Regions from separate parts of the Homo sapiens genome. Here region 2 is linked to region 1. Evidence: fine-mapped expression QTL. Tissue or cell type: thyroid. Region 1 holds a variant in brackets; the other region holds the start of a gene. All regions are shown on one strand. Distances are from middle to middle.

Region 1 (4,402 bases):
TGGGCGCAGTGGCTCACACCTGCAATCCTAGCACTTTGGGAGGCAGGCAGATCGCCCAAGGTCAGGAGTTTGAGAGCAGCCTGGCCAACATGGTGAAACCCCATCTCTACTAAAAATACAAAAATTAGCTGGGCGTGGTGGCAGGTGCCTGTAATCTCAGCTACTTGGGAGGCTGAAGCAGGATAATTGCTTGAACCTGGGAGGTGGAGGTTGCAGTGAGCCAAGATCATGCCACTGTACTCCAGCTTGGGTGACAGAGCGAGATTCTGTCTCAAAAAAAAAAAAATACTGCATTAAAATATTTGTCTTCAGTTGCATTCACTATATGCATACACACACACACATCACACATTACAAATGAATACAGGTTTAAAAACTGGCCATCTACAGTCTAGTTAACAGTAATGTCCTGATGTCAATTTCCTGATTTTGATTTTGTACTATAAGATGTCATCATTGGGGGAAGTTGGGTATACCAATGTTGCAATTTCCTGTAAGTCTATAATTATTTCAAAATTAAAATTTTTGCAGGAGGGTGTCACACACCTGTAGTCCCAACTGATCAGGAGGCTGAGGCAGAAGGATCCCTTGAGCCCAAAAGGTCGAGGCTGCAGTGAACCAAGATTGCACCACTGCACTTCAGCTTGGGTGACCCAGTCTCTTTTTAAAAATTGAAAATATATTTATTTTATAAATTCCTGAATCTGGGGGCACCCAGGTCAATTTGAGCCCATAGTGGGCATCTTACTTTCCTCTGCTAGTCCTGGCCCTGCGTGTTATGCTCTCAAACAGTGGGGAACATCAGCCAAGACTCTCACCTCGCTCAGCAATGCACAGACACTTAGTTACCCTTGAGCCATCCATAAACCCATCTGGCTGCCCCAGACCTCCTGCTAATTCTGCCCCCAGGAACACGCCTTCCCTGCAAACCGGCCCTTCCCATTTCCGTAAACACCCTGTGTGCAATGTTCAAGCATGAGCAACAATGGGATAAGCTTTTCTTTTCTTCTTCTTTGTTCTTTGACAAGTTCAGTTCAGTTTCAGTGAAAACTACTCAGGGTGTAAACAAATAATGTCACATCTTAAATTTTAGTTATGAGTCAGGGCCTATGGTTTTGACAAGCACCCAGGTGATTCCAGTGTGGAAGCTGAAGAGCCACCCCTTGAGCCAGTTCTTGACTTTGTGCTCACGTTAGAATCTTCTAGGGCAGCATCACCTGGGAACTCATTAGAAATGCAGATTCTTGACTGCGCCCTGAACCTGCTGAATCAGAAACTCTGGGAGTGTGCCCAGCCATCCGTGCTTGCAAAGCCCTCCAGGCAATTCCGATGCTTGCTGAGGTCTGAGGACCACTGATGTAGAACTTTAAAAAAATGGGATGCTTGGATCCACGTCCAGAGATGCCAGTCTCATTGGCTGAGTTACAGTCCTGCTGTCCCACATAAAGTTTCTTGGGTCATTCTACCAATCTCTGGGGTGAGAGTCGCTGCTCCACTGTGTCTTGGTGACCAGCTGAGTCTCTCTTCCTGGTTCTCCAGCATGACTCCTAACTAGTGCTTATGTTTCTTGCAGAGAAACCAAAGATCTGCCCTTAACAACAGTCCAATGAGTTAAGAGGAAATAAAGTGCTTTCAAGAAAATGCCTTTTTAAGCA[C/T]CCATGGCATCCAGGAGGCCCCTATGCTGTGTATGGTTTGATTTGTGTGAATTTTAGTTTGCCTATTCTTCTCTTCTCTTTGTGAACTCTGGCAGGATGAGAACAACTTCACAAATGTGTAAGGAAAGTTGTTCTCAAGCGGTCTGGGACGGAGTCTTTTTGCTTGATATACTTCAAATCTCCTTCTGGGAATATCATTTATTCCTGATAAAATGCTTAAGAAATTTTCTCACTAGATTTAGAAAGATGTGTCCTGAGAAAGCAGTCACCTACTAGCTGTCAGTCACACACGGAGGTTCTGGAAACCAAACATGCTGACCTTTCTGTATCTGGCCTCATACTAATTATCTTAACATTTTATTCCTGGACACAGTAGTGTGCGCCTGTAGTCCCGGCTACACGGGAAGCAGAGGCCAGGAGTTTGATAGCTTGAGGACAGGAATTCAAGGTTGTAGTGTGTTATGATCTGCCTGTGAATACCCACTACACTCCAGCATGGGCAATCACAGTGAGATCCCATTTCTTTTTTTTTAAAAAAATTCTTATCCAATAATATAACCCTAACACATGTGAATTATGACTGCCAGACAGCTTCTCTCATAGCAATATTATAATAAAATTTTATATGGGACTACAGGTGCACACCACCACACCCAGCTAATTTTTTGTATTTTTTATAGAGATGAGTTTTTGCCGTGTTGCCCAAGCTGGTCTCAAACTCCTAGACTCAAGCCATCTGCCTGCCTCAAGCCTCCCAAAGTGTTGGGATTACAGGCATAAGCCACCACGCCTGGCCTCAAAAAGTTCTCAATGCAAGTTATATAAACATTGTATTTACTAAAAATAGTTCTATGCAATGCAAACAGCAGAGACACATAAATAGCAGTAAGTGATCACCCCCACTGAATTCCACTTCCCAATGGGGGGTGACTGATTCCATGAGGTGTGTGTCTTACCACCTGTATTCATCCACTCATTCATTCATTCATCCACAATTCATTTGTCCAATATTGAATCAATCACCTATACTGTTCCAAGCTGAGTGAAGGGGATATAGATGTGCATGAGATAAACACCATTTTTAAACTCATGGATCTTACATAAATGTAAATACAAACTCTCATACTTCAGTAATAGTTGAACTATTACTGAAAGAAACTAATTTTTAGCTCAGCTTTCTTTTCCTGCCATGGATTTACCCAAGAAGATTAAAAACATCTTTCCCTGTCCCCATGGAGAGCAGGAATGAGCTGTGCTGTCCTCTCCCGGCTCCCACCCTTTCCACTCCGCTCCTGGCCCCTTGCCCCACCTTGCCAGGGCTGCAGTTTCAGGCCCACTGGGCGATTAAGGTGGATTGCCCTGGACAAGGATCAGAGGAGATAAAAGTGGCTTGGTTGGGGGAGGGAGATGGAGAGGGTGGAAAGTGAAGAAGTGAGACTCCTCACCCCCAGGAGAGATAAAGAAGGGGCGGTGTTGTGAACCACTGGAGGTGAGAGTGACCAAGCCCATTGCACACAGCACACCATGGGGGACACAATTTCAAGGTTGCCTAAGGAGGTGGCATAGTAGGGGGTCTGGTTCCCAGTCTCCATGCCACAGCCTGGATCAGAGCAGAACTTTGGAAGGGACAGCTGGAGGTTGAGCAGTGCACGTCTAGTTGTGGCCAGGGTAGACTCAAGGCAGAGTCACTTCCTCATGTCCTCTGGACTAATAACACCCTAGGACTCCTGCACAGCCGAGGCAATGGAAACGCACTGAGCATTCCCTGCTTTGGGCAGTGCCGGCTGACAGAGGGGTGTTATTTGATTTAGGAAAATAAAACATGACATTTCCTGCATCCAGGTGTTGCAAAGCAAATGTATGCCTACTGGAGACACACGCACACATGCACACACACACACATCACACACATCACATGCACAGTCATAAAGCTCCTGGTTTTGTTGATCAGCTCCTAATTGCATTATCATTCTTTTTACAGCACAGAGACTAAAACTGGACCAGAAGCCTTCTTTTGCCAACAATAGGGCTTGTGGCGGCTTTAGTTGAAAATGTGCACTCTCAGTAAGCATATTGAAGCAGTTTACTTGGCTGGGTGTGGTGGCTCACACCTGTAATCCCAGAACTTTGGGAGGCCGAGGCAGGTGGATCACCTGAGGTCAGGAGTTCAAGACTGGCCTGGCCAACTTGGTGAAGCCCCATCTTTACTAAAAATACAAAAAATCAGCTGGGCGTGGTGGCATGCACCTGTAATCCCAGCTACTCAGGAAGCTGAGGCAGGAGAATTGCTTGAACCCGGGAGGCAGAGGTGCAGTGAGCCAAGATGGCACCACTGCACTCCAGCCTGGGCAACAAGAGAGAAAGTCCATCTCAAAAACAAACAAACAAACAAAAATGTTGAAGCAGTTTACTGTAAAACGGATCCTGTGTCCTTTAAAAGCCTGAACTGTCTGGGCGATATTTATGGCTGCATGACACAGTTTGGTGTGATTAAATGTGTTCCTGAAGATGTAATTTTCATAGAGCAGTCCCAGGGTCCCTTTGGGGGTCAAAAGATCATTAGAGGGTGGAGGTGGAGTGGGGCATCCCTTCCTGAATTAAAGCAGCCCTTTCCAGGCTCCCACCCTTTGAAGAAAAAAACCACCATTATGGAGCAGTAATTTACACACATACACACAATGTACTCGCTTTAAGTGTGCAGTTCAATGAGTTTTGACAAATGAATACACAATCACAACAGTCAACAC
Region 2 (4,402 bases), 150 kb after region 1:
CTAGGCGTTTTTCATCCTATATGCCCAGTATTTAGTTGATGTTTCTTGAGTGTATATAAGTGTGCACATGCCCAGAAACATGTAAATATTAGTACATGTTGTAGAAAAGCTGTTGTCAGGAAGATATTTGTACACTCTGGCTTTCCACTATGATAGTCACCAGGCACATGTGGGTACTGAGCACTGGAAATGTGGATTGTCCAGATTGGAATGTACTAATTGTAAAATACGCACTGGATTGCACAGGCTTGGGGCAGTACAAACAAAAGAATGAAGATATCTCATTAATAGTTTTTATGATTATTACACATTAAAATGATCATATCTTGGATATATTGAGTTAAAATATATTATTAAATTAATTTTACCTCTTTATTGTTACTTTTCTAAAAGCAGCTACTAGAAAATTTTAAATTATACATGTAACTGCTCATAGAAGGTTGGTATCTGGGTTCATTCATTAGTGGACATTCATAAACATAGTAATTTTCTTTAATTTCATGGATTCGTTGAACTAAAGATCCCATAGGTCACCGCCTTCCCTGTCCCTCCTCTACCACCAAAAATTAATGAGAACAAATGGGAAGAATTTACTCTGCTTTTCAAGGTACTCTGATACAGATTTTTATCTACTGTCATAAGTATACCTAGAACAAAAGCACTGTTGACTCAAGTAGTTTCACTAATGAAAAGGAAGCAGCAGAATGACTAATGTAAATTGGAGGAGACTCTTTTATTTGGAATGCTTTGGTTCTTCCACTGTGGAACAGGTGTGGCTGCTGTTGAAACAGCAGAGTCATACTAGGCATATCTGACATGTGAGGAACCGGAGCATTGCTCAGGGGCCCCTGCCTTCCAATGAATGGATGTAGGATCCATCATACATCAGATTGCTCCTTTCCAATACAAACTCTGATGCAGAAATGCACTTGGTGTATTTGCTTTTTCTTACTTTCTGGTTTAGGGCAGAAATAATATTTTGGCTTAGAGACTTTTGTCCTGAACTATGACATAATAGGATGAGAATATCGTGTCAAAAATAGCCTTACAAGGTCCTTTTTGGCATTAAGACTTCTGGAGTGAGTTTGCAGTGGATTATTGAGAATAATTCTGTTCATTAGCAGCTAGCCATCTTTGATGAGTGCTGACTTCTCTCCTTTCAGCACAGAGCAGGAAATGCCTGCCTCCCATGACTCTGGGTTGGAGTGAAGGGGAATGCATACCAGCCACCCTCTTGCAGAGGTGGGGCAGGTGCTGGCACAGAGCCTCAGGTTAGGCCGAGGGGATGCAATCTCAGATCAGCAGCCAGCAGTGTTTGTAAACAACAGGAGGGAGATTGTGCTGGTGATGTCCAACTCACACCAATGAAGATCAACCGGTTTGTGCTTTGGGCAGCAGGCTGCAGATGGACAGTGCCTCCTGAGGGCATCGCCATGTTTTAGGGATCCATGTTGCAGGATACCTGTCTGCAAGAGAGAGTCAAGGAGGGCTTTTTAAGCCCCTGGGGTTCAGGCCTGGCATCTGGGTGTTAAGTAGAGTGAATCTCCTGAAGTCCAAACTAACATATGACATTTTAAAATGAGGAAAACAAATGGCTCTGAAAAGGTCTATAGGATTATAGGTAAGTGGTTAATACGGAAGATGTTATAAAGGTCTCAGGAGGAGATGGGGTGATCCAGGGTTGGTTGAAGTCGTTGAAATGGAATTACCCTGTCTTTTACCTGTCTGTGGGAAAAAAAAAAAAAGAGGAAAATGACATCTCCCAAAGATGCTTGGAGATTTGATTGATGTTTGTAAAGTGCTTTGATATCTTTCATAGAGTGTTCAATAAGAGCAAAATATGTCATCAGAACTTAGTCTAAAGCAAACTAGTCCCAAACCGTCTTGAGTAGATACTAAGCGGTTTTGTGTCTTTGTTATAAGTTGTACTTATATTTTCGAGAGAAAGTTTTTCATGTTCTGATTTTCTTTTAAGTGTCAGCTGTATGTTTGGGGTCTTTACCTGTTAACTTGAGTTCCAACATGCTTTGTAGATGGTCAGTCACCTACAGAGGACAATTTTTCTAGCCAAGGAGTTAAATCCACCTTAAAATGCTTCTTGCCAAGGACAATGCCTTTGCAAATATTTGAGATGTTTATTCTCAGTTGTGATTTATTACTGAATCTGTGTCTTCATAGCGACTCCTTGGGAGGTGCAGGAGGAGGCAGAGCCAGAAAGCAAGTCCCTGCAATCAGTTCATTATAGAGAAAGAAAAAGCTTTTATTTCAGGATTCTGGTGGATAGACTTACTGATATGTATATTCTGTGTCTATTTAATTTCACGTAGTGCTGCATCTAATCACGCTGTTTAAATAATCGGACAGAATGTCCTTTTGCTTTGCTTTTGCTTGTGAAGAGCACACAGCACTGCCACCTTGTTGCCAAAGTTTGGTCTGATTTGAATGTGCTTAAAAATCAAGTGAATGCCTGTTGGGAAAAAGCTTACTCCTTCTCTTTGTCAGTACTTGCAAAAACAACTTAAAAGAAGTTAGTATTATTGGACTGAATTCAGTAATTAGCATAATCATGATGCTATGTATTGTTCACCAGGGCACGCCCCTTGGCCGCATTTCCCATTAAGAGGACACCGATGTTGTCCTAGTGAATAAATCCCGGCACACATGATGCAAATCAGCGTGTTCCTGCCTGCTGCTTGGCTGCAGTTAATTTTAGCCGGGGTTAGTTCTATGAGTTGTAAAAGTAGAAGTTAGCAAGCTGAAATGTGACTTCTCGGCCTAATGTGGTAGGATATCTATTTTAGACTTCAGATTGTGTTTGTGATCAGGAGAGCAGTCTTCTGAAGAATTGTGGCTCAGTTTTCTTGGAAACTACTTGTAAGTACTGGGTGGAATTTTAAGACTTCTCTTTGTTCTTTTCTCCTTAAATCTTCCTAATGTTACCGTCATAGTAATGTTTATCTCTTGGGAAAACTGGAAGCTTTCAGGTTGGTACGTTAGAGAAAGCTAAGAGAGGTGGCAAAAGGTTTTTCTTTAAATGTCTCCTACTGCAATAAATCTGCCTTATTCAATTTGCCCAAGAAAAAGTTTTCGATTCTTACTTATTTTTGCAAAAGCAATCTGTAGATTATTATTTTATGTTAAAATATTTGATTAATGGATATGGTTTCTGTAAATACAGAAACATTGTATTGTGTCATTGAGCTTTGTTTTCTACTATGGTAACCTAATTCTTGAGAAAAAAATGTTGAAAGTTAATTCCTGTTATACTCTGTGCTACAAGTTTATTTTGTAGAAATAATGGAGTGTCAAATGTAATTTTCTTGAATGTATAGATGGACAGTTTTTTATCCTTTTAAGGGGGATTTTGTGCTTAAAAAATAAACCCATATATGCCTAAAGAGAAGCACTTTAAAAAATTAATTTAGGAAGAAGGTTTTAGAGAATAATTTAAAGCATCCTCTTTTAGACTGAGTTAGTTATCAAAAGTAACCAAAGGCCATGGGATTCTGTAACCTTAACTGCAGTTCATCTAACACATTATTACCAACTTAAATTTGTACTGAAGAAAACAAAAGATTTTGATATTGAATATTTTAAATTAAATTTGAATCATCTTGCTTATTTAGAAGTGTGTTTTCAATGTGGACTGACCTCAAGCCAAACAGTTTGCTTACAGCAGAGAACCAGGCAGGAATTTCTTTATCAATTAGCAAGTAAATGTATCAGCTTTAGGAATATTGTTATTAATAAAACAGTTCTCCTAGGCGATAGGATAGGTGCTCACCAGCTATCTATGCCTGTCATCTCTAGAGCAAGGAAGGAGGCAGGTCCACAGTTAGTATTGTGAAAGCCATTTTCCCATTTTGAAAAGATTTAGTTAAAGACTTCTTTGTTATTATGTATTGTCTGATTTTAAATGCAAATGACATAAAGTGTCAACAATGAAAGGAAATACTTCAGTGTTCCATTTAGTAGGAAAAGAGTGTAAGAAAGGAAAGTAGTACTGAGTTCTTGGGCTATTTTTAGAAAGAAACTTACTTCATACTTAGTTTTTATTGAGCTGAAGAGAAATTTGCTGCCCAGATGAATTATAATGATAACAGAAGCCTCTAATGTCATCTTCAGCAGTAAAAGGGGTTTTGCTCCGGTAATCCTTCATAATATATATTTTTATCCAAAAAATTCTGACTTATTGCTATTACTTCTTACTTCTAATTGTTAATAAGGCACCATCAGAATCTCAGTGGAGCATTTTTAAAGGTACACTGTAGTTGGGTATTAGTTTTCACACCAGTATTCACTTGACCTATTGTAGTTCTTAGTCCTGCAAAAGAGAAAAGCTGATTCGAATTTATCCATTGTTTAATTTCACAGACGTTTCTGTAGGTTTTTCTACTACTAG

Direction of the effects. Positions count from the first base shown, and alleles are read on the strand shown. Sizes are in standard deviations (SD) of each study's normalised expression.
In carriers of allele T in region 1, the expression in thyroid of the gene that starts at base 2,674 in region 2 tends to be lower than with C alone (small effect, 0.23 SD a copy in GTEx).

The links. PIP is the estimated chance that this variant, and not a neighbour inherited with it, causes the effect.
Region 2: SLC20A2 starts here. The variant in region 1 is the best candidate, but not a certain one, in a credible set for the expression of SLC20A2 in thyroid (GTEx, PIP 0.87).

What each region holds. Positions count from the first base shown.
Region 1 is chr8:42,651,708-42,656,109 of GRCh38, reverse strand. No RefSeq gene overlaps it. Among named protein-coding and RNA genes, the nearest start is that of CHRNB3, 43 kb to the left of the region's middle. The variant C/T (reference allele first, on the strand shown) is at 1,656.
Region 2 is chr8:42,499,503-42,503,904 of GRCh38, reverse strand. SLC20A2 (solute carrier family 20 member 2) reads left to right here and starts at 2,674. Exons shown (of 11, transcript NM_001257180.2): 1 at 2,674-2,874. RefSeq lists an enhancer at 568-1,767.